5 separate regions of the Homo sapiens genome follow, and regions 2, 3, 4 and 5 are each reported to be linked to region 1. Evidence: microRNA targets listed by miRTarBase, many of them from high-throughput screens and not tested one by one. Region 1 holds a microRNA gene; each other region holds the end of a gene's coding sequence.
The links. The annotated mature microRNA hsa-miR-5583-3p reads GAAUAUGGGUAUAUUAGUUUGG and lies in region 1 at 3,137-3,158, shown strand. An mRNA with a match to its seed (bases 2 to 7 or 8) in the 3' UTR can be bound and repressed. Matches are read on the target gene's strand: a 7mer-m8 pairs with bases 2 to 8, a 7mer-A1 pairs with bases 2 to 7 and ends in A, and an 8mer does both.

Region 2: the mRNA of RIF1 is a reported target of hsa-miR-5583-3p. Seed matches in the 3' UTR shown: 7mer-m8 at 3,525-3,531.
Region 3: miRTarBase lists ZBTB38 as a target of hsa-miR-5583-3p. Seed matches in the 3' UTR shown: 7mer-A1 at 3,549-3,555.
Region 4: the mRNA of CD302 is a reported target of hsa-miR-5583-3p. Seed matches in the 3' UTR shown: 7mer-A1 at 3,858-3,864 and 7mer-m8 at 2,126-2,132.
Region 5: the mRNA of WDR13 is a reported target of hsa-miR-5583-3p. Seed matches in the 3' UTR shown: 7mer-m8 at 3,717-3,723.

What each region holds. Positions count from the first base shown.
Region 1 is chr18:39,674,770-39,679,876 of GRCh38, reverse strand. MIR5583-2 (microRNA 5583-2) reads left to right here and starts at 3,100; the gene lies at 3,100-3,158. The region is part of intron 2 of MIR924HG (MIR924 host gene); the gene reads left to right. It overlaps MIR5583-1 (microRNA 5583-1), which reads right to left and starts at 3,156; the gene lies at 3,098-3,156. It also overlaps the pseudogene RNU6-1242P.
Region 2 is chr2:151,474,819-151,479,911 of GRCh38, reverse strand. RIF1 (replication timing regulatory factor 1) reads right to left here. Exons shown (of 36, transcript NM_018151.5): 36 at 1-5,055. The coding sequence ends at 4,841. Among named protein-coding and RNA genes, the nearest start is that of RIF1, 67 kb to the right of the region's middle.
Region 3 is chr3:141,445,311-141,450,417 of GRCh38, reverse strand. It overlaps ZBTB38 (zinc finger and BTB domain containing 38), which reads right to left. Exons shown (of 6, transcript NM_001376113.1): 6 at 626-5,107. The coding sequence ends at 4,442. It overlaps LOC124906291 (a long non-coding RNA gene), which reads left to right. Exons shown (of 2, transcript XR_007096120.1): 2 at 1-1,779. Among named protein-coding and RNA genes, the nearest start is that of RASA2, 39 kb to the left of the region's middle.
Region 4 is chr2:159,767,331-159,772,437 of GRCh38, forward strand. CD302 (CD302 molecule) reads right to left here. Exons shown (of 6, transcript NM_014880.5): 6 at 1,298-4,723. The coding sequence ends at 4,521. It overlaps MARCHF7 (membrane associated ring-CH-type finger 7), which reads left to right. Exons shown (of 12, transcript NM_001282805.2): 12 at 1-3,697. The coding sequence ends at 12. It overlaps LY75-CD302 (LY75-CD302 readthrough), which reads right to left. Exons shown (of 38, transcript NM_001198760.1): 38 at 1,298-4,723. The coding sequence ends at 4,521. Among named protein-coding and RNA genes, the nearest start is that of CD302, 28 kb to the right of the region's middle.
Region 5 is chrX:48,604,254-48,609,360 of GRCh38, forward strand. WDR13 (WD repeat domain 13) reads left to right here. Exons shown (of 10, transcript NM_001347217.2): 9 at 19-137; 10 at 595-4,616. The coding sequence ends at 779. Among named protein-coding and RNA genes, the nearest start is that of WDR13, 9.3 kb to the left of the region's middle. RefSeq lists a silencer at 1,888-2,182.

The DNA of each region.
Region 1 (5,107 bases):
CTCTGATTAAGCTTATAATCAACAATGGTCAAGCTACCCAGTGAATGAGTCGGGATATGAACTCAGGCAATTCTGATTTTAAAGCCAAAGCTCTTTACTTTCTGTCTCAAGGCCCCTGTGGCTTCCATTTCTAGCTAAAGCATAATGTAACCTCAGCCACTAAAATCACATTGCCATTGGTGCCTCCCTCATTCTCTCTTCATCTTCTTTTATTCTGTTTCTATGCCTGTGCAAAAAGGCAGCTGCCCTGGGAGTGGACTCTGCAAGGACACCAGATGCATTCACACTCCAGTTCTGCGTCATGCATGCTCTATGAACCTGGGCAAGCAGAGTAACCTCTCTGAAACTCAGGTTTGTCGTCTGTAATGTGGGAACAAAAATCTTGAACTAGGCCTGCTGAGAGATTAAGCACCCAGTAGACAATAGGTGCGAAGTAATTATTAATTCCCTTCTCTCTCCCTGTCAATTTGCTGGCTCCAGATTGGATACAATCTTCCTGCTTTGACCTTGAGTCTCCCTCCTTACAAAATGCAATTCCATTTACTGAGCATCTGAACATAATTGGCACCTAAGGAATACATGTTGAGTGACTGAAAGACCTCTTCAAGGCTCAAATGTCCTCAAGAATCTGAAGCCCAGCCTGAGCCTTGTGAAGATCTTTGTAACTGCCTTATATCCCCACACTGGTTTATGCACATTCATTATCGTTTACCATATTGGCTTCTAGTTTTTCTTAATACATCATAAGTTTCTCAAGAGCAAGGACTATGTCTTACTTTTCTTTGTAAACTTAGCTATTACAAGATATCCTGAATATTTATTTGACAAATTACTATTTGAAAGATTTAAATTGAATCATTATTCTAATATCAGTAGTTAACACTGATTAATCTTGCCTGTAATACTAATTCCTAGAAGTATTTGAAAATATAATGAAGGCATTAAAAAGGTTAGTGCTCACTTCAGCAGCACATATACTGAAAATAATACAGAAGGCTGGGCACAGTGGCTCAGGCCTGTAATCCCAGCACTTTGGGAGGCTGAGGCGGGTGGATCACGAGGTCAGGAGTTCAAGACCGACCTGACCAACATCGTGAAACCCCATCTCTACTAAAAATACAAAAATTAGCCGGTGTGGTGGTGGGTACCTGTAATCCCAGCTACTCAGGAGGCTGAGGCAGGAGAATCGCTTGTACCCGGGAGGCAGAGGTTGTAGTGAGCCAAGACTGCGCCACTGCACTCCAGCCTGGGCAACAGTGTAAGACACCATCTCAAAAAAAAAAAAAAAATACAGAAAAGATTAGTATGGCCCCTGTCCAAGGATGACACAGAAATTTGTGAAGTATTCCATAGTTTTAGCCAAGATATGGAATCAAACTAAGTGTTCATCAGCAGATGAATAGATAAAGAAAATGAGGTATATGTACACAATGGAATACTAGTCATACAAAAGAATGAAATTCAGTCATTTGCAGCAATATGGATGAGCATGGAAGATATTATGTTAAGTAAAATAATTCAGGCACAGAAAGGTAAATATCACATGTTTTCCCTCACAAACAGAAGCTTAAAAAGTTGGTTTCATAGAAGTAGAGTATAGAATAATGGTTATTTATTTATTTATTTATTTTTTGAGACAGAGTCTCACTCTGTCACCCAGGCTGGAGTGCAGTGGTGCAATCTCAGCTCACTGCAACCTCCGCCTCCTGGGTTCAAGCAGTTCTCCTGCCTCAGCCTCCCGGGTAGCTGGGATTACAGGCAAGCACCACCACATCTGGCTAATTTTCATATTTTTAGTAGAGATGGGGTTTCATCATGCTGGCCAGGCTGGTCTCGAACTCCTTACCTTGTGATCCACCTGCCTCGGCCTCCCAAAGTGCTGGGATTACAGGCATGAGCCACTGCTCCTGGCCCAGAGTCTAGAATGATGGTTATTAAAAGCTAGGAAGGGTTGGGTCAGGAGATATGGAGAGGTTGGTTAATGGAAACAAAATTTCAGCTAGACAGGGGAAATAAGTTCTAGTCTTCTAAAACATGGTAGGGTGACTAACAATTTATTATATATATATATATATTTTTTTTTTTTTTTTTTTTTTTTTTTTTTTTACTGTAGAGACGGAGTCTCACTCTGTCACCCAGGCTGGAATGCAGTGGCGCAATCTCGACTCCTGCAACATCCGCCTCCCAGGTTCAAGCAATTCTTCTGCCTCGGCCTCCTGAGTAGCTGGGACTACAGGCACATGCTGCCATGCCTGGCTAATTTCTTTTGTATATATATTTTTAATAGTTAGAAGAGAGGATTTTGAGTGTTCCCAACACCAAGAAAAGATAAATGTTTTAGGTGGGGGATAGGCTAATTACTCTAATTTGATCATTACACATTGTATATATCAAAATATCTCTCTGTACACCATAAACATATATAACTATTAAGTGTCCATTTAAAAATGGTACAACCACTTTGGACAATAATTTGGCAGTTTCTTATAAAATTAAACCTATAGTTATCATATGGCCTAGAGATTCCTGTCTTATGTATTTACACAAGAGAAATGAAAACATGCCCACAAACACATTTATATATAAGAATGTTTATTGCAGTTTTGTTCATAACCAAACATAAAAAAATTACAAATATTCATGAACCAGTGAATAGTTCCAAGTTGTGGTATGACGATGCAATATGTACTCTCTAATAAAAAAAAGGAACAAGCTACTGATACATAGCCTAACATGGATTCAGAAATGTTATGTTGTGTGAAGGAAGCCAGACATAAAAGAGAACACAGAACATACTTTATGGTTCTCTTTATATGACATTACAGAAATCAAAACAGCAGTTGCCTCAGAGATGGTATGGAGTGGGATATAGTGGTAAAGGGTGGGAAGGGAATGCTCTAGGGTGATGAATACATTATGTATCTTCATTGGGGACTTATTATGTGGGTGTATACATTTCTCAAAATTCATTGAACTATATACTTAATTGAACTGTACACTGTATTTTATTGGATGTAAATTATACCTCAATTTAAAAGATAATATACAATTCAAAAAACAGAAGGATCTATGGAATAGATCTACAATGTAGAGCTAACCAAACTAATATACCCATATTCTGATGATCACCTAGCCAGAATATGGGTATATTAGTTTGGTTAGCTCCACGTCATAGATCTATTCCATATTTGTGCAAAAGTTATATTTCGAAGGGTCTCATGTTTAATGATTTAGACTAGAAATGTGTTGGGGTGCATAATCTATAGATATCTCTATGGTAGGTTGGTTTAGAAAATGAAGCATTTTAAAAGGTAAATGACTTCTCTAATTAACCATGTAGTAAATATTGTCCATAAGATATATACACATTATATATATATATAATATACATATGTGTATATATGCCCATATAATACATTAAAAATATATTTTTTTGACCAAAGACAAGCAAAACAAAATAAAAGAAAACATACCCCCCTACCTGGTGAGGGCTCTCACATTCTCACATTTTGGATCTGGCTGGTGGTCCTGGTATTGCTGATTTTTTAGATGGTCCCTGAAAGCAGATGCCTCTGTCTGTATTTCCTTAGGAAACTCCAGAATAGGATAAGCTCAGAAAACGACCACTGTACCCTGGAAGCATAAATTAGCTTCGGAATAGGGATAGGGCTCAGTTATCTCCTTTAAAAGGGGGCCTGCCAACCTCGTCTAACTGTTTTAAGAATTCTTTGAATGGTAAGAGCATTGCATAAACAGGAGCATTCATTGCAATATCGGCTTTGACCTCAACTCAACCCTCTTCCCCTTTCAAAACCACTGAAGAACATTTTACTCCATTTATAAAATATGAAAGGGAACTTTTAAGGTTGTTACTTTCTAATTTTCCCAACTCATTCTCTTCATCCTGTTCCTGGTGGCTCAGGACAACTTCCTACCTCGCATTGCCTCTCATTCACCTCTAACCATCCCCTTAGATGTTAGCTGATAATTACATAATACCTTTGCTGTTTCTCTCAGGCTTGTTTTCAGTTTTAAATTAATTATGAAAGTCCCTCAAGTAGCATTTCACCTCCTAAATGTGGCCCTGCCATCCTGGGATCTCCTGAAGAAAGTGGCTGATGGCTTTGCCCACTCAGAAACTTGGCCATGCCGAAGGGACACCCCATCTCTGACAGGACAGCAGTTCTCTTTGGGCTGAGCCGAGGGTGGGACATGACAGAAGTCAAGGCTGATTTCTGTTTCCCTTGAAAACACTGGTCAGAATGGAGAGGCTGCCCCATTTAGTGAGCTTGGGAGGATGACTCATCCCTGGGAAAACTCATTACTTTCTCAGAACCTTGATCTGTTCCCAAGTTCTCCTTTTTTATGGCAAATATAAAGTGGTTAGAACTCCCACACATTTTTCCTTCAGTGTCTCTGAAAATCATTCAGCCCTGTTCAGGGTTTCGCCAGTGATGAAAAGCTTATCCTACATATTTTCAGATAGCAAATGTCATAGAACACACATAATGTGACTACCTATTGCACTGACATTCGTATTTAGTACTCAAAGGCGAGCCATTTCTGAGGGAGGGAGCCCGGTTTGCTCTATAATGCCCTGAGACAGTCCTGTATCTCCTGCTGCGGCTCCTGACAGATCTTATAAAAGATCGTAAATTACTATCTGTTGAAATATATGAATTTAATGAATTCCATTAACGCACACCTGCACAGAAGAGATTTCAGGAACCCAAAGATATGATCAGTCAAACAGCTTTAATAGTTATTAATTACAGAAGCAGACTATTTATCCCCTGCCTACATAGAAATCTGAAAGTAGTGTAATACTCACACTTCAAGGGTTTTTGGGTGGGAGAGAAAATGGGCTTTGGTTGAAAGGATCAAATACTTATTTTAGCTAATGCACTTACATGCTGGGAGTTTTATATTTATATATGAGAGAGCAGTCACTACTTTTATGTGTAGATTTTAAGAAATTTAATGTCATGAGAGTTTATTTTTTTTTAAGAATTATAAAAAAGGCTTTGGCCAGTATTTAAAATAGGCCACTTATTTTTGCTTCTACATGCATGAACATCCAAATGTTTAGATGAAAACCTAAACCAAC
Region 2 (5,093 bases), not on the chromosome of region 1:
ACTTATTAACTGGACATCAGAAAGCACGAAACCCAATTTGTTTTACAGATCAAACTATCAATAAATTTTGATAAATTTTTAAAACCTATTACTTAACTTTCGGCTACATTTTCCTTAGTGCTTTCAGGGTAGTTCTTACAGATTATTTAAATATGTGAGGAAAATCTAACACCTTAACAGAATTCCAAGAAAAACTCACTTTTCGAGAATCATATTATTCAACTCCATCTTTCAAATTTCACTTTACGATGAAACAGGAATTTTCAACCACATAATATAACAGAAAATTAAGTGACCAGAGGTCCGCAGTATAATGACAGGGCATATCTGCTAGACTGACTTATTCATTATAGCACTACTAAATTTAACTGCCAGATTAATATTAGGGGTAGTGTTGATTTTCCATGTTTATTAATAACGATGATCCATAATAGAAGGCAAGATTTATTTAGAGACTAAATATATTCTAATACTTAGAAATCAACTTTTATATTAACAAAAACATAACCCACAAATACTCATGAGAAAATACTTTGTCTACTTTGCCTTATCAATAAGATTCTTTATAACTTGAAATTCTTAGTCTGCCTACTTAAAAAATAAATCGTCCATATTTTTAAAAGGCTCTTAAGCAAAATTCTTAACTTTCTTATAATTTTTGAACTTTAAGCCTTCAAAACCAGTCTGCATCCCCAATTCACAAAATTGACAGTTATAAAAGGACTTGAATCTGCCTGGCTTACCAAAACCTAAAACACAGCCTGAAGCCTCTTAGGCCCATCTACCAGCGCAGTTCACAGGCATCTGCATGAATCACCTGGGACTGTGTTTAAAAAGACTCACGGGGCCCAATGCAGATCTACTGAATCAGAATCCACTTGTTCATATGCACATCAAAGTTTGAGAGTACTATGTTAAAAATCAAAACCTCACTCTAATGTTTCTATACAAAGTACAAGGTCTTTCTAATGGCTTAGGAATAGGATAGACCATGGGTTGCAGCAATGAGGAAACAGTCTCCTCCCCCCACCCAAGTTTTAGTCTAATAATGCCAACTAACTGCTGTTTTATAGCCTCCTAGGCTGAATGACAAATTAACTTCTTGAAAATCAATTATGAAGAATATGAGATGAAACCTAGGCCTTTCTTACTGAATTAAAGTCAAAGTTGGAAGAAAAAAATTAACCCATTTATACTTTCTTTTTAAAAAGCAATTACTCTATTCTCACTCCTTTACACCTTAAAAAAATAAAACTTCACTTATATATTCACGATCCCCACCATTTCCCCCAATTTTGTTTCTTGCCTCACCACTTACTCTTCACATTTTTATGATGTTTAAATTGTAACAGAGTCTTTAACTATCTTATCTTCAAGCTGTACAGAAAAAAAAAAATCCATGGGCAATGTTAGAATTAAACTTTTTTTTTTTTTTTGCGAGACAGAGACTTGCTCTGTCGCGCAATGGCATGATCTCGGCTCACTGCAACCTCCGCCTAAAAGGTTCAAGCAATTCTCATGTCTCAGCCTCCTGAGTAGCTGAGATTACAAGTATGCGCCAACATGCCTGGCTGGTTTTTGTATTTTTAGTAGAGACAGGATTTCGCCACATTGTTCAGGTCAGTTTTGAACTCCTGGGCCAAAGTGATCCACCTGCCGGGCCTTCAGTCATGCTTTTAATGTGCGGGTTTAAATCCTGTTTTTGCCTGTATTATCCAACAGCATTATTTAACCTGATTCATCCTTTAACTATTTGGAATTAGAGTAAAGCTCCATATGATTCAACAATGGTTTTCAAACTTGTACAAGTGGCAAAGCAGCTTTAACAATGAGGTCACTGAAATATTGAAAATTTAAATCCACTCTAAAATCCAAAATAGATTTCATAGATATGGAAATGATGGGCCAGGAGCGGTGGCTCACGCCTGTAATGCCACCATTTTAGGAGGCTGAGGCAGGTGGATATCTGAGGTCAGAAGTTTGAGACCAGCCTGGCTGACATGGTGAAACCCCGTATCTACTAAAAATACAAAAATTAACCAGTGGTGGTGGCAGGCACCTGTAATCCCAGCTATTTGGGAGGCTGAGGCAGGAGAATCGCTTGAACCCAGGAGGTGGAGGTTGCAGTGAGCTGAGATCGTACCACTGCACTCCAGCCTGGGCAGCAAGGGCGAAAACTCCACCTCAAAAAAAAAAGAAAATGGCCAGGTGGGGTGGCTCACGCCTGTAATCCCAGCACTTTGGGAGGCCGAGGCAGGCGGATCACGAGGTCAGATCAAGACCATCCTGGCTAACACAGTGAACCCCTTCTCTACTAAAAATATAAAAAATTAGCCGGGCATGGTGGCGGGCACCTGTAGTCCCAGCTACTTGGGAGGCTGAGGCAGGAGAATGGTGTAAACCTGGGAGGCAGAGCTTGCAGTGAACCGAGATCGCACCATTGCACTCCAGCATAGGCAACAGAGCAAGACTGTGTCTCAAAAAAAAAAAAAGATACTACATGACAATCCTGTATGCCACTAGTTTTTTCTTCTTAAATATGCATAAGACAATTAAGACACATTTGAGTGTTATTATGATCTGACATTTGTTTTATTAACCATTAGAAAAGATCTGAAAAAACGAATTCCATTTTAATAGTGAGACAACACAGTAGAGCTAATCATGGAATATTAATGTTTTGCTATTCGGGAATTACTAAGGGGGAAATTTGCAGGAAACTTTAAGGCAAGAATATTGCAAATAAGTTGCCAAAAATATATGCTTATAGCCATAGCAAAATGAAGATTTAGCATGCTTGTCTTTGCTCCCAAATATTTTTAAATGCAGCTTTATTAAACTATAATGTTTTTAAAATTAATACTTGTGCTTATATAAAATTCAGTGATTTAAGTACATGATACTCATTTGGTCACATTTTCTGCTATTACTGTTCGGCTTCCCAAGAATTTCATTCAATCAGCAAGTTTAGTTCACACAAACGTTAAGGCACAGAGTCATGAAACGAACTGATTTTAATTCTGAAGTGTGTTAAAGTAATCTGCTCCCCTCTGCCCCAAACACATATACATAGCTGCTTATTCATACCTGTTTGCTAAAAACTCATGTGCACCTCCTTACGGTTAAATATAATTTGGGAAATTAATGATGTAAAATGTAAATCATAATTATAATTCCTTTTAAGGAAATTAGTATTTTTCTTTAGTTACTTCAAGCCACAATCCTTAATTCAATGATCCCAGAATTCTTTACAAAACCATCCTTGGTATATGAATATCTTAGACCCAAAAATATCTGTGATTATGATGAATTTATGATGATGAAAAAAGACACCAACTTTTATAGAGATCCCTGAATATACGAGAGCTAAGGAGGCACAAGGATTAAACTTTCTATGACTTGCTGTAGAATGTGTGCCTTGCTAAGTAGGGATTAGCTTCTGAATAAAATGTGAAAACTGAGATCACTCACTCATTCTATTCAAAGAAGAAGTGAGATATACTGTCAGTTAAAAAGATGAAACAAATATGGGAAGTCAGGCACTAATATTAGTTGGCAAATTTTACAAAGGTTTTAATTACATACCTCTTTAAAAAAAGAAAACCTAGGCAACACAGACATATATTAAAAACATCAGTTTCAAATTTCTTCCAAGTTTGCTTTTAAATGAAGGTTTAAAAAGCAGATCAACTCTAGATTTTGTAGTCCAACTTGCTGTGAAATACTGAAACTAACTTTCCTTTAAGAAATCTTAAGGAGGCACACTTTCTAGTGGTGATACCCTCCTCCAAACCAAAAGTAGTAAGAAGGTAAGGGTATGAACAGCAAAGTTGTGTAACATTTTCTTATTTCTATAATTTTACTTATTCTGGATACTTTTAGAAAATAAACTCATGTTTTAACTAAGACTGTTAACCAAGTACAAAACTATTTGTTGTTGCATTTGCAGATACAGTATCCTACAAATATGTGCAGCAAGCCCATGAAGCACTTCCACCGTCGATACTGATATTTCAGTATTTAATATATACAAAATGTTTCTATTGAACAGAACCAAGGTATTCACAATAAGCTGCAGAAAAACCCATGCAATTAACAAAGAATGAAATTTATAAATTAAAAACATTGTCGTCTATACATAATGTACAATCATGCATTTAAAAATGAATACTATACGTCTCATAAGAATAAATTTTCAGTCAACTGCTGCTGCATGAATATTTGCTAATGCAAATGAATAAAATCTTAGTAAATTCTGCATTAATATTTTAACCGCCAGAAGTTGAAACTTTTCTCATTTTTCTTGAAAGCTGTCCAAAGTTGACATATGCAGGAAAAATTCAAATTCTTTCGCATTTCATTTGAGGTTTTTAACCAGTAACAAACTTCCTAAACCTCAGTCCCAACAAACATGAATTAAACAAACCAACAAACAAAAATATAAACACCTTTATCAGTTCAGCAAAAATTCAAATAAAAATGTTCAATTTTACTTAAAGTATTTTACATGTTTCACCAGAATATGCACGGGTTTAAGAAAGCATGAAATAAAATGTAAGTTCTGTTACTAGTTTTGCTTTCACATCTCAGTAAGATAATTAAATTTCCTGAAAAACCACGCATAGCAGCCAAGAATACATATTATGAAAAAAAAAAGGATCTTACATAATGAACTTACAAAATTGAACTTACATAATAAGTCACTGTCCTTCAGGGTTTGAAATGTTATCAACTTTGCAAAGAGTCTCTTCTTTGAAATTGTGCTATTATTTCAGAACTTGTTTCCTCAATCAAGAAATCCAGTGATGTTTAAAAAAACCTTCAATTTTCTCTGAAAATACTAAATAGAATTTTCATGGGATGGTGATCTCCAACGTGACTGTAGATTTTTTATTACAGAGTTTGCCATACAACTTAGTTTCTCGTGCATTTCAAATAGTTGGCTTCCTGAATAATTATGAAGATCTTCTGAATCCAGCTGAAGAGCAAGAGCACTAATCTGTGCCAGAAGGTTTTTGGATAATGGAATTTCTAAAGCAACAGGATCAATTATATCTAAAAGAGAAAAAAAAAACCACAATTAAATCTATACC
Region 3 (5,107 bases), not on the chromosome of region 1:
GTTGGCCAGCCCATTCCTGAACTCCCGCCTCGGCCTCCAACGTGCTGGGATTACAGTTGTGAGCCACCACGCCCGGCCACATTATTACATCTTTAAAATGTCTGTTTACCAGTTTCTCTAACTGGAATAAAATACTTTCACCTATAATTACATACAAGTCATATATTTTAAAATTATTGCAAAAAAGTGTTTGATTTTCCACAAAAACATTCTAAATAGAATGTTTTAGATGTTACTAATGAAATAATAAAATATAACATTTCTAACTAGTTCTTCATTCGTTGTCTAAATTTAGAGTGAATAGTTCTAAATTGCACACCCAGCCAACTTTCTTGCTCACTGACCATCTTGCTTGAGGAACTGGGTTAGGATGTACAAACTAGGGAGGGAGTAAAGGAGGCTTCTCTCTCCAGAAGAGAAATCAATAGCTGGTCAGGATTTGGGGAGGGCGAGGGGGATGCATTCTCAGATTTGGAGGAAACTGAAGTGGAAGAGCTGTTGCTTCTGTAAAAATAAACTGATAAGAGACAGATGGGAGTGCAACTAAATCAATCAGTAGGTGATGAGAAAAGATGAGTAGCAAGAATGAAAGTATCCGAAGTAATGGAAAAAAATATACTAACACTTTTGTTTTATGCTTTTACTTTCCCAATTGTTACAGATGCTTTCAATATTAAATCTGTTGTTCTTGTACATAATGAAGTTAGTTTTAGCAGATAACAGTTATCAAATTTTTGGTGAATCTGGTTTGGATTGCCCTTCCAATACAAAATTGATGCTACTGGCCAGCCACCGGTAGGCCTGGCAGTAATTTTCTCTGTGTTGGTGATGGACTGTGCTGCCTGAGCCACCGACATCCCCTCTCACATTGCCCACTGGGACAAACTGCAGGCATTTGCAAGATAGTTAGTTAGCTAAGTTTAGGAGTAGAGTCTGTGACGACGGAACGTATTTTTTTCTTTGTGTGAAAATTACCAGCTTATAATGCTATTACAATTTTACTCCATATCCTTAAAAAAGTGCACAAATTTTACTGATTTTATAGGGCAATCTCCTGAGATATAAGGGAAGCCCAATTCAGGGGAAGCTGAACCTGACACAGCCTCCTTTAATCCTGTTCCAGGGCAGTCACTAACTGCCATCCTAAAGCTGCATTACTTTATCATATCTCCTTTCCTCATACTCTGTTCAGTTTCTATAAATGATTTTTCTCTACAGTGTTGAGAAGGAACAAAAACATGGGCTTTGGAGTCAGGCAGACCTAGGTTAGCATCCTGGCTTTGTCTGGTTGTGAGACCTTCTCAAAGTCACTATAAAACGAGGATAATGAGGTCGAATTCTGGTGCGTGTGTGTTAATGAAATAGCCTATGTAAAGACATTGCCCAGTGCCTGGTACTCAATAAATGTAATTTGTTTCCCACGGATGAGTGGAGCAGAATGCTTCCTGGAGAGCATTTCATTCTCTGATTTATCATTATAAGATCAGGCCTATCCAAAACACTCAATCATCAGAAGACTTCAATCTCTTTTATTCTGCTTTTTTCCTAATGTCATAATCCATTTGACTCCTAAGCATGTAAGTAGGTACCACGGAATGTAAACAAGTAAGGAAACAGAAATAAACTGAATAATACGTGGAAACAAAGCTGTGACTCACACAGATGAAATAGCTGCACAAAAGAAATAACATGAAAACATTTAAAAAGAGACTTAATGTAGGAATAAGCTATTTTAATCAAGCAAAAACAAATTTATATCCATTATTTCTAAAAATAAAATTAGACTTTTCCAATCCTTAACATCTGCATTTAATAATATCTTCTAACCAAAATACAGATGCTAAAACAGCAAGTTACATTATATCTTGTACAGCATACAGTATGTTCACTGTTTACACTTACTTTAATTCTAGTTGGTCATGTACTCAATGCATACTTAAACATCACTCAATAAAATTTTCACAATTAACAAAAAAATGTGACAAGGCTGTCTTAAAACGGCTCTGCTATAAATTGTATAGAATATACAGAATTACAAAGTCAAGTATTTTTTTATCAAAATATACACCCCTCCCTGAAACTAACACAAGCTATCAACATTTTAAATGAATACAATTATAGAAAATATTTGCAAAATTATTTTTTCATGTATAAATATTCTGCCATATTTACTTTGGTCTAGAATTATCAGCATACAAGTCCACTTAAAAAATATCCACATATAAGGGCTGGGAGAGAGACATCACTACAGGTAATTTTATATTTGGGGTTAACTCAAATCAAAATGACTAGAATATACAGTAAATGTCTTTGATTAATATTATTAACTGATAAAACAAATTAGTGGATCATAGGATTGCTTATTCAATATTCTAATTATCAATTCAAAAATGATTTTCGTAAGCCCTTTGTGACTATCTCTTTAATAAAACCCAAATGAATAGTGTAGGGTGTACATATATACAATGTATAAAATAAAGTTGAATTTGCTTGCATTTTCCCATTTTTCTCTACTTATATAATACTGTATGTAAGTGAAAGTAGATGAACAAAAGATAAATGCAGATACAATAGTGGGGTTACTTAACAGCAAGGTACTACAGTATTAAAAGGTCAACTTTAATCATGTCCTTTCCTGGGCGTTTAAATGCTTTCTTACCCACCCAAATCCATACTAAGTCTTCTTCATGGAGACATCACACTTGTAGACAGAAACCGGAGTCCTTTGAGCTACTTCTTCACAATGATAACCTTCCAATCTTCGATAACCTTGGGTTTCCATCTGTCAAATCCAATGAACATGAATGACTGCAGGTCACGCTGAAACTGCATTCCGGATTCTGTTCACACTGGTGATCAAAGGGTAGAAATGTTTTCTCTCTCCCTTCTATTCTGGCAGTTTGAAAAAGAATCATGAGTTCCGGCTTTCCAGGAACCTAGTCCACATGATAGAATATGCTGTAGGGCAATTAGATTTGAGGGTAGTGTTGATGGTGTGGGTCAAAGAACATAAAAAAAAAACTTCAGTGGGTTTTTAGCAAGGGGTCTAGATGTCTGCAAATATGAAGACAGAGCATCTGGCTTTGTAGATATATTTCTGAGTCTCATAAGTAAAGGATAGAACCATGTCACTCCACATCCTACCTTCCCACCCCCTAAAAACAAAGCTACTGTTTTAGGCAAGGAAGGCCATCACTTCTTCTTGCCCACTCAAGTCATTAATGGGTGGGGTGGAGGGTGGGGGTTCCTTTGTCCTTTTGCTTTATACTAGTCTGTACTTGTGGGCTGCATAATCTCCAACAAGGCTAGTAATTGTAGGGATTAGGCAGTCACTTTCAAGTGCCTGGGAATTCACTACTGCAGTGTACCTTGCACTAAATCTCTTGGACAGTCCTTCAGTGGAATGGGAGATGGCAGGTTCCACTTGAGCCCTTAAGTCTGTCTGGAATAGACCCCCACATCCATGGCCTTGTGGTGGTTGGAAGACTGCAGAGAGTTTCAGAACAATGTGACCCTCTTTCATTCTCTGAGATGAGGCCATTGCAAAGTAATATGCAGCACAGGTAATCACAGGTAAATTCTGGGAGGGTGTTCCCCCATAGATAAGGCATGACCTATGTTTTCTGTGAATTGAGTAGACCAGTTCTAAGAACAGCTCAGCCATAACTTCAAGGGAACAGCATTCCATCTAAAAGCATTCACATGCTCTTAAATCATATTCAAAATGCTTTCTATTGATTTTTACATCAGTCCTCATTATTTGCAGATCTATTGCTCCTCATAATTCTCTACAGGGGATATGGACAGTTAAAAGTTATAGTGATTTATATATGTATTTTACAAGGTTTGTGTTGCAGAAAAGTAGTTCTACATAATGTATGAATGTCCTACTTTAGGTTACTCATTATGCACATAATTTCAGTTATATTGTTTAAGTATTTCATGTGTATCCATTAATTTAAACAAATTTTAATAGTGCAGAAGCCAGATGGGAATAAAGACCGTCACACAGCTTATTACCACGTAACATATTTACGAAGATGCCATCTTCAGGATATCTGACCCTTATTTTCTCCAGTGACTAAAGACAGTTCAGCAGCCAGTTCTTATTAGCAATTATTAGAAAGTTTTAAACTAGGCTAAAATTAAACTCCTTTTTTCACTGGTAGAAATACCACAGCTAAGAATTTTATTAACTTTCACAAGAAACTTGGGATATTGGAGGAGTCAGCTATTTTGTTTTTGTGCACTTTGCATAAAGTTAATGCTAAAACCCAAAGTAGATATTAGGATCCTTTTTCTGGAATTTTCACAAATGAGTTTTTTTTTTTTTTAATTTCACTCCTTCATGACTGTCACATGGACAAAATGAAACTAAACTTAAATCATAACTAAAAAAACCACCAACTATATTTTTGAAGATTTTTCTAATTCTTGCCACTCAAAGGACAACATTTTCCACACCGGTTTGTATGTTATCCTTTTGGTCATTGTCTTCTGAACCAATGAAATGTTGATTCTCCAAGGGATTTGAGTTTTCGTGGCACACGTCACCTATTTTCTCCTGCTGACTTGGGCTTTTGAATAAGTGTTTCTTTTGGTGCATTCCAAGGGCAGCAGCTGTTTTGCAAATTTTGGGGCACTGGAAGCAGGCATAGCCCTTCCCATTATGCTCCCGAATATGCCTCTGCTCGTGATTCCTTTTGGTGGAGAGATACAAAAATCTCTGAAAGCAGAACTGACAGTGGTAACGCTTTTCTCCAGTATGGATTCTTTCATGGATTTTGAGGGTCTCATTCAAGGTGAATGCCTTGTTGCAATACTGACAGACGAACTCCTTCAAGCCCAGGTGGATGCGTTCATGTTTCTGTAAGTTTCCTTGCACCGAAAAGCACCGTCCGCAGGTCTTGCACTGGTATGGCTTCTCCCCGGTGTGACATCTCATGTGCATTTTGAGTGTGGAAGGGCTCTGGAACTGCTTGGCGCAGAGCTCGCAGGCATATGGCCGAGAAGTAAGATGTCGGTGGGGCCTTCCTTGGTTTCCAGCCCCCACTGCTTTGTCTCCATCACAGAGTTCACACTGCAGCTTGGGCATCTCTTTAGTTTC
Region 4 (5,107 bases), not on the chromosome of region 1:
GATATTGCCTAACTTCATATAAGACAGATGGATGATCTGTGAACATAAGTGTTTATTAAAAATGGCAATTAAATATAAATTACTTTTGTGGGGGAATGCCTAATAAATACATTGACTATATATAAAATGAATATATACATACACATGTATGCCTGTATATATATATTCATTCTCCAGTGTTGCTGAATTAAAATTCTGCTGGACTTTTTAACATAGCAAATCCGATGTTTATAAACTGGTAATCAAAAAGGTTTTTTCTTTTAGGTGAGTGGGAAAGTATTACCCTTGTTTTAAATATCTAAGCAATGCCTATCAACCCTTTTTTGTGTTATGATTACTGTAGTCATATTTATGAAAAAAGGTTTGTGTTTTACTCTTGCTAGTGAGAAAAGTGGGACAAAATATACTTTTGAAATAAAATGCTATATGGCACCTAATTATTTTTTCTTTTAAAATGCCTTAAGTTGCAGTCTCATTTTGATAATCATTTGCTTCCAGTGTTTAAAAATTAAAAAAAGAATGGGGAGAAGGTTATGAGAAGAGCATTATTAAGTTTCCAAATTTAATTTGAATTCCAAATTCACCTAGCAATAAAATCTAATTTTTAAAAAGTATATAAATATAAAATGTATAAATGATGGATAGATTTTTGTATTGATTTGCAAAATGCAGATTATATTTGATAGGCTATAGTATGTAGATATTCCTTTTAGGAATATTACAGCTGTAAATTATATGAGACTTGCCAGTCAAATGCTATTTGGTTTAAAAAAATTATTGCAATCTCAAGTTAATGGAATATTTTTAAATCCCACATTCAGAGTTTAAAACACTGGTTTTCAATGTGTTTTTTAGTGTTGTCACTTGTTTATAGATAAATATATAAATAACCTGTTTGGATCCTGGTCCTTTTTAACTGTTCCTTGGTAATTCTGAGCATTTATTTGATGACTTAATATTTTTCACTACCTTTGGAGAACAGATGAACATTATTCACCATGAATGGATCTATACTGTGTGGTCATGAGTTGTGTATACTTCCATAACACTGTATTTTTCTTCTGTCAGTACCCTTAGGATACACTTTAAAACACCTTAAGGTCTGATGTTATGGCAACAAACTACTTTTTCAAACCTAAATAGGAACCATGTAATTTCTCAAAAGTGATTGAACAGTTTGCCCACACTTAGTTTGTTGGTCTTATGTAAAACATTGGCTCAAAATAAAGTACACACTGATTTATTTTACTGTTTGAAATGTTTCCTTTTAAACTGGTGCTCAAAGAAGACATCAGACTTCATAACCAAGAATTTTATTACAATTTCAAATCTCATTTTAAGCAATAATATAAATGTTCTAAAACATTTGCTCACCTCTTGCCAGTTACCTTTGCATTGTCTGTCTTAAAGCAAAAATATAAAATTTAAGGGTGGTAGTTTTAATATATTCTGTGGGTCCTAAGGGATGCTTTGAATTTGAAGTATATATACTTTTAATAAAATTCAGTATGACAGTTGTCTTCTGCTTAACCCATAAAACTTTATTTAAAAAATTTAACTAGATGGTACAAAACATTCATTGGTATGCACATAATTCTGTATAGTTTTGTTATTAAATGCTAAATGACAGTGATAACAATGGCTTAAGCTTTACAGTATTCTTGTAGTTCCCTAGTACCACTTAGTATTTAAATATTGTCATATTAGCTTCAGATTATCATGTAAATGACGGTAGAGGAATAAGAGAAAAGGCTTTCATTGGTTATCAGTTTTAAATTCTGAACAAAAGAGACCATACACTGCTCACTACAAGAATGCAATTTTCTAAGAAAATGTAGTTTAAAATGTTATTCTGAATATCTGCCAAAGAATTATATTGTTATTACTAGCTAGAACCAAGATGTTGAAGAAAGCAGTTTCTACATTCTGGATGTAGTAAACAAGCCTGCCTGTGTAATCCAATTATCTCTTCACTAATGAGTAGATAAGGTGCCTGTTATAGATGTTCTGGTATATAAAGAAAAAATGTAGGCCAAGTGTGGTGGCTCACGCATGTAATCCCAGCACTTTGGGAGACCAAGGTGGGTGGATCACTTGAGGTCAGGAGTTTGAGACCAGCCCAGTCAATATGGCGAAACCCCGTCTCTACCAAAAATACAAAAAGTTAGCTGGGTGTGGTGACAGATGTCTGTGGTCCCAGCTACTAAGGAGGCTGAGGCAGGAGAATTGCTTGAAAACCTGCAAGGCGGAGATTGGAGAGAGCCAAGATCGAGCCACTGCACTGTAGCCTGGGCAGCACAGTGAGACTCCATCATATATATATATATAGCACTTCATTACCAGAGGCCTCTTGGCCTGTTGAAAAATGAAACCAAATATTGAAAATTAAATCAGAGTTTAAAGCAGCTATTTTGGAAGAGCTGCCATTAGGTAGAAAGTATCAAAATGTACAAAAGAAAGTTGTATGGGAGTTGAGTGGAAGGTAGGATTTAAGAGCAGCACTGCCCAATAAAACTTCCTATAATGAAAATGTTCTATAATGTATGTTGCCCAGTACAGTAGCCACTAACCACCTGTGATTTGAACACTTGACAATGTGGCTAATGTAATTCGAAAACTGGATTTTAAACTAAATTTACTTAAATAGCCTCATGTGGCTAGTGGCTCATTGGACATTGTAGTTGTAGACGTTTGAGACTGTTGGTTTTAAGTTGGACTTAATCACTTTCCTACCCAAATTCTACCACTCCTTTAAGAACTCCTTTAGAACTCTTTTAGTTCACATAATACGCCATATTTTTTTTACTGTGCCTGTAGTTCTTCAAGGAGTGGTACAATTTGGGTAGGAAAACCAGGCAGGAATTCCAGGGTAGTGTTCAATATTGACATTAGTAATAGTCTATCAATAATAAAATAGACATCTCAATCACTATACAAAATCTCAGAAATGTAAAGCTCTTACAGAGCATGCTTGTGCTTGTGTAACAGCTGGTGTAATGCCTGCATTTTCAGTACCATGTAGCCGCACTGTTAATAGTTTTCTATCACTTTTTAGTTACTCATGTCTCATTAATGATAGTGCCATTAATTGTGATGAGTGTTTTCGATTCATGTGGTCAATAAAAAGAGACTACACAAGCTGGAACTTTGTTGCCATTAGTCAAGCTAGTGAGATAGTATATCTATCTATCTCCCCAGAAGAAAGTAAGATAATTGATGGGGTGTGGATTCAGAAGAGGGATTACTTTTCTTTGAGCCTCAGACTTCTAGACAGTATACTTCAGTCAGTAATGGACCACATATAGAACAGTGTTTCCTTAGTAGACCATATTTTTACTGTACCTTTTCTATATTTAGATACACAAATATTGTGTTACAATTGTCTGCAGTATTCAGCACAGTAACATGCTGTGTAGGTTTGGGACAAAATAGGCTCTACCATCTGGGTTTGTGTAAATACAAGCTGATTTTCACACAAGATTCCCTAACTATGCATTTCTTAGAACGTATCCCCATTGATAAGTGATACGTGACTAATTTACGTGAAATTTATACATTCTTTATCTTTCCTGTTTTTGGTTTATTGATGGTGAGGAAAATTACTCGTTTCAGCTTTTTCATTTTTTTACTCCCCAAATGATTTTCACCTTTTTCTTAAAATGTACAATAAATGCACTGAAAACTTTGATCACTGTCACTACAGTTGTACTTAAGTGTTTTTCTTCGGTTTTTGCTTGCACAGTTTTCATGTCATTGAAGGAAAAATTTATAAATGCTTGAGGAGAATGAGATACATCTTGTATAGGGGAAAGTACAAAAGGTATGGTGGCAAGAGAGAAATCCTTAAAGGGGCACTATAATATGTAAGTGTTAACCTAATTGCCAGCTTTCTCTATGCCATCCTGGACACAGCGATCATATTTTGTTTCAAATAATTTATAAACATTCATTAAAACTTGAGTCATTTGTGATAAAATGGTGTGTGTAAAAGTAATGAAACTAAAATTGGTGTGGGGTGTTAAAAGTTGTAAAATTTTCTTCATCTAAATCATAAAAAGATACACATTCTAGAGGAATTATCTGCCAAAAAAATAACAATTATCAAAGATATTTAAATGTATGGGATGTACTTAAAATCACTTATTCCCCATTTCATGTTTACTAATAAACATATAAACTAAAGTGGGTCAACTAAATAGGGAAGATACAGCAGGCAAGACAAATAGGCTGGGCTTTTATTTTTATCTGCTTGGGCTTTAAGCTTTCCTTCATTCAAGTGACAGATTCTGCCTTTGACGGGATGCTTAAAATCACTATATTAGATCTAAGATCATTTCTAAAACCTGTTTTTTTAATGAACCTAAAGACTTTTCACAGCAGATGAGTACATAAAAATGTTACTGGAATAAGGAATACCATTAAAGCTCTAATATCCAATGTCAAGTTTTATATTAAAATCTTTCCCAAGTTATCTCTGCCAGGGCATTTTGTTGATGTCTTAGTGCAAGATTACCAAAAACTTAGTCAAATTGAACAGGATATTCATTTTCTTCTCCAACTACCAAAACACAGTCTTCATTATAAGGTGATTGGGGTGCGGTTGAAAAAACTGTGGTGAAACGAGAATCAGAATGTTTTTTGTACAGGAACCAAATGATTGCTCCCAAAACTGTCAAAATTACCGTGCTAGCAATCACCAATGCTGATATTAAAATGTGGTTATCTGAAAAGGAAAAGACAAAAGAGTATTTGGGAAATTAGGGTACACAAGTTGCAAGTATATTTTGATGAGCACAACTGTAGTTTTGTGTAAACATTTCTCTGTGTTGAGAATTTCCCACACTGATGAGAAAACCAAAAATTTCGCATTTGTTACTAACAAGATTTATATTTCTTAGCCTGAAGAATAGTACTCAAATTTTCTAGGAAGTTGTGCACTTCTCCACTCTACTGAAGACCCCATAGTGGAAATCACGCAAGTATATACCATGCTCCAGTTTGTCTTCCTTCGCTTTACTTTCTGATCTAAGACTACAAATTCAGACCTACTGTTCCCTTTAGGAATTCTAGTATTTAGATAATGTGTTACATTATTGAGGTTTAATGG
Region 5 (5,107 bases), not on the chromosome of region 1:
ACTCTCTCATCCTCTCAGGGTGGTAGACAACGAGGGGACCCTGCAGCTGAAGAGAAGCTTCCCCATCGAGCAGAGCTCACATCCTGTGCGCAGCATCTTCTGTCCCCTCATGTCCTTCCGCCAGGGGGCCTGCGTGGGTGAGTCCTGTAGGGACAGGGGATCTGGGTGGCTGGGGAGGGGCAGGAACCAGGGCTGGTGCCAACCTGGCTCAGACATCACGACACCGATGCCCTGACTTCCTGGACCTCATGACCCCTCCTGCCCCAACAGCCTCACTGTGGAACTCACAGCTCCAAACAGCTCAGAGAACTCACAGTTTGCACTTGATCTCGGCCAAAAGGCCGAGAAGTGATGAAAACTCACACTTTGAACGCACTAACTCCCCAAACAGCCCAGAGACCTCGCATTCTGCACACAGTACCAAAACAGCCAGGTGACCTCCCATCTAGGGATGGGGCCCCCTCAAACCTCCCCAAGCCATGCTAGGACCTCACACCTCGGACATACACCCTTCAACACCTCAGACACCTCAGGGACTTCCCACCAGGGGCACCCCAGGCGCCTCCCGATGGCCTCTCCCTCTCACCCCGACAGTGACGGGCAGTGAGGACATGTGCGTGCACTTCTTTGATGTGGAGCGGGCGGCCAAGGCTGCTGTCAACAAGCTGCAGGGCCACAGTGCACCTGTGCTTGATGTCAGCTTCAACTGCGACGAGAGCCTACTGGCCTCCAGTGACGCCAGCGGCATGGTCATCGTCTGGAGGCGGGAGCAGAAGTAGGGTCCTGTCGGCCCTGCTGCTGTCCTCCATCCCACCCCTCTTACTCCAGCCTCGTGTTGTAAATAAAGTTTCGGTGGTCATGCTGAGGGCCGGCTCCCAGCTCTGCCGGGGACGGACAGGGCAGAGGGCAGCGGGCAGCTCCAGGAACACGGTGGAACGGGGTTCATTGACTCATTTGTGCATTCATGCATCGACGGATTCATTCATTCCACAAGCATTGATTGAATGTCTGCTGGGTTACAGGCCCTGCCTTAACTGTTTTACACACTTATGCATTCGATAGACATTAGTGAGCCCTGACCGTGTGCCAGGAACTGTTCTAGGCACTGGGGATACTGCTCTGACCTAAACTGATGGAAATGCCTGCCTTCATTGGGCTTGCATCATAGCGGAGACAGTAGATAAAAACATGGAACAGGCCAGCTAATGATGAGTGGTATGAAGAAAATAAAGCAAGGATGGGAGACAGAGCTGCAGAAGTTGGGGGAGTGGGCTCTTTATGGTGACAGCATCAGGGAAGATGATCCTGACAGGGTGACTTTTTTGTTTTTGAGACAGGGTCTCACTCTGTCACCCAGGTTGGAATGCAGTGGCATGACCATAGCTCACTGCAGCCTCAACCTCCAGGGCTCAAGTGATCCTCACTTAAGCCTCCCAAGTAGCTGGGACTACAGGTGTGTGCCACCACACTCGGGTAATTTTTGTATTTTTAGTAGAGACGGGGTCTCGCCATGTTGCTCAGGCTGGTCTTGAACTCCTGGGCTCAAGCGATCCACTCGCCTCAGCCTCCCAAAGTGCTGGGATTACAGGCATGAACCACCACGCCTGGCTCAGGGTGACATTTAAAGACCTGAATGAAGTGAGTGGGAGTCATAGTGTAGGGGGAGAACATTCCAGGCAGAGAGAAAGCCAGCCTAAAGGCACTGAGGCTGGAGCGCTCCAGAAGGATCATTGTGTATGCCAGAGTCTTGCTGGACCAGAGTGTGACAGTACATGAGGTCAGACAGGCCAGATGCTTCATGGGCCACAGTTAGGACTTTGGCTTTTTTTCTGAGTGGGGGTGACCAGAAGGTGTCAAGCAGAGGAGGAACATGATCTGACTTGGTCATAGAGGCTCCCTCTGGCTGCTGAAGGGGACAGATTGGGGGTGGGGGTAGAAGCAGGGGACCCAGCAGGAGACCCCTCTGAGCGCAGTGATGGGGACTTGCACCAGGGTAGTGACAGTGGAGGAGTTGGCGGGGGAATGTTGGGTCGGACCCCCAGGGGGTTCACTATGTTAGGCTGCAGGACTCTGCTGCCTCCTCAGGGGGCGATATTCCCAACCCTTCTGTGCATTGTGTTGTTTATTAAAAGCAGGGAGCAGAGGTGTTGAGTCCTGGAGCCCCAAGCTGGTGCAGGAGCAACGGGAAGTTAAGGCTGACCTGGGGCCTCCTGCTGTGTGGCGGAATCTCCATCCCTCAGACCACCCCTGTCTCCTCCCAGCCCCATCCAGGGTACAAATTCCAGCCCTGGAACAGCTCAGAGACCAAAAAGTGATGTTAAGTATTTGAGGGGAGCCCCAAGAGAGGAGAAAAAGCTTTGAGTATTGATGGGGGTAAATAACCAAAATCACTTATCAGTGGCCTGCGTCACCAGAAAATGTCAAAGTTACCTGAAGCAGCAAAGAGGCTCTTGCTCCGGCCCCTCCCTTCCTTCTCAGCTCCATTTGTTGCCACATATGCGTTGACTGGAACTGCGACTGACATCTTGGGACCTTAGGGTCAGTCCACAGCGTGGTAGAGACTCCAGCTTGGCCCAGCATTGCTGAGCTGCTGAACTCGCACCAACAGTCTTGTTGGAGGGAAATAATCTCCCGTTTGTTCAGTCCAGTTATTTGACAGTGTGGTTACTTGCACCCCAAGCATTTCTAACTGGCACTTCCATCTAATAGACCTCAGGGTACATGGTGGTGAGATAGGGACATCAGTGAGCTGGATTGTTCCCATGGTAAAGGTCATGTATGTGTGTGTGTGTCATGGTCCTCAATACCAGCCCCAAGCCCAGTGATTTGCTAGGAGGACTCCCAAGACTCAGTATGTGGTTGTATTCATGGCTACGATTGACTTATTACAACAAAAAGATATGGAGCAAAATCAGCAAAAAGAAATGGTGTGCAGGACCAACTCCCAGAGAGACCCAGGCACAAGTTTCCAGGGCTTCTCTCTCATTGGAGTCACACAAGATGTGCTCGGTTCACAGTAATGGGTTGTGACAATACATGCGAAATGTTGCTGACCAAGGAAGCTCAATTAGAGACTCAGCACCCAGAGGTTTTTTTTGTTGTTGTTGTTGTTTTGGTTTTTTTTTGGCGGGGGGGGGGGGGTCTTGCTCTGACGCCCAGGCTGGAATGCAGTGGCATGATCTTGGCTCACTGCAGCCTCCACCTCCTGGGTTCAAGCGATCCTCGGGCCTCAGCTTCCCGAATAGCTGGAACTACAGGCGCGCACCAGCAAGCTCGGCTAATTTTTGTATTTTTAGTAGGGATGGGGTTTCACCATGTTGGCCAGGCTGATCTTGAACTCCTGACCTCAAGTGATCCTCCCACCTCAGCCTCCCAAACTGCTGGGATTACAGGCGTGAGCACCTGGCTGGTATCAAGTTTTTATTGGGGCATGGTCACATAGGCACCCCCTGCCTGGCACCTACCCAAATCCCAGGCTCCCAAAAGGAAAGCAGGGGCTCAGCATAAACCACCTTTTTTTTTTTTTTTTTAATTGAGACGGAGTCTCGCTTTGTCGCCAGGCTGGAGTGCAGTGGCGTGATCTCGGCTTACTGTAACCTCCGCCTCCTGGGTTCAAGCAATTCTCCTGCCTCAGCTTCCTGAATAGCTGGGACTACAGGCGCCTGCCACCACCACGCCCAGCTAATTTTTGTATTTTTAGTAGAGACGGGGTTTCACCATATTGGCCAGGCTGGTCTCCATCTCTTGACCTTGTGATCCGCCTGCCTCGACCTCCCAAAGTGCTGGGATTACAGGCATGAGCCACCGCTCCTGGCCCACTTTTTTATACAAACAGCTTAGGTAGAGTAAGCCATTCTTTTTTTTCTTTCTTTCTTTTTTTTTTTTTTTGAGACAGGGTCTCACTTTGTTGCCCAGGCTGGAGTGCAGTGGCTCAAACATGGTTCGCTGCAGCCTCAACCTCCCAGGCTCAAGCGGTCCTGCTGCCTCATCCTCCAAAGTAGCTGGGACCACAGACATGCACCACCATGACCCCAGCTGATTTTTGCAGAGATGGGTTTTGCCATGTTGCCCAGGCTGGCCTTGAACTCCTGGGCTCAAGTGATCCTCTCACCTTGGCCTACCAAAGTGCTGGCGTTACAGGTGTGAGCCACCACACCCGGCCCGAGTGAGCCATTCTTATCTCTTAGGGAATGGTGGGAACCCTCCTGGAGTCTATGTTCTTAGACACCACCCAAGGGCCAACCTTGAAGCAGGCCTTTCCAAGGATCGCAGTTGAGGCCTGCTCTGTTACTGTTTTTCTGCACAGTGTGCAACACCACACAGATGCCCAGTTTCTACCAAGGTCTGTGGATGGCAGGATAATTTTGAGGAACCTCCTTTTTCGCTAACACTTTCTTCTTTTGTTTACACTCTTCACATTGTCTATTGAGTCTGGATTCAAGATGATTGATTGTGAATATTGTTGTGCATGATTTTGGGGGTTTCCTCCTTGTGAAATTTTGAGGTGGCAGATTTGACATTCTACTTTAAACTCATCTTGGTGGCACTTTTCTTGACTCACCACCTAAGGGGGAATAAATAATGAAGAAAGAATAAAAATAGTGTTATCAGTCACATTTGGGCCTCGGTTAACTTGTTCAGCATCACTGGTTTCACATCAGATCTGAAGCTCTGTCAATCATTCCACTATCAATTCCACTCTGGTCTTGCCTCAAATCGAGGCTTCGATTAACTGTTCCCTGCCCTTTGTCTGACTTTGAACCTGTGTGTTTGTCAACTACTTTACCATCAAGAGCCTCTCTGGGCCAGGTGCAGTGGCTCACACCTGTAATCCCAGCACTTTAGGAGGCCAAGGCAGGCGGATCACGAGGTCAGGAGATCGAGACCATCCTGGCTAACACGGTGAAACCCTGTCTCTACTAAAAATACAAAAAAATTAGCCGGGCGTGGTGGCACGTGCCTGTAGTCCCAGCTACTCGGGAGGCTAAGGTAGGAGAATCACTTGAACCCGGGAGGCGGAGGTTGCAGTGAGCTGAGATCGCGCCACTGCACTCCAGCCTGGGTGACAGAGCGAGACTCCGTGTAAAAAAAAAAAAAAAAAAAAAAT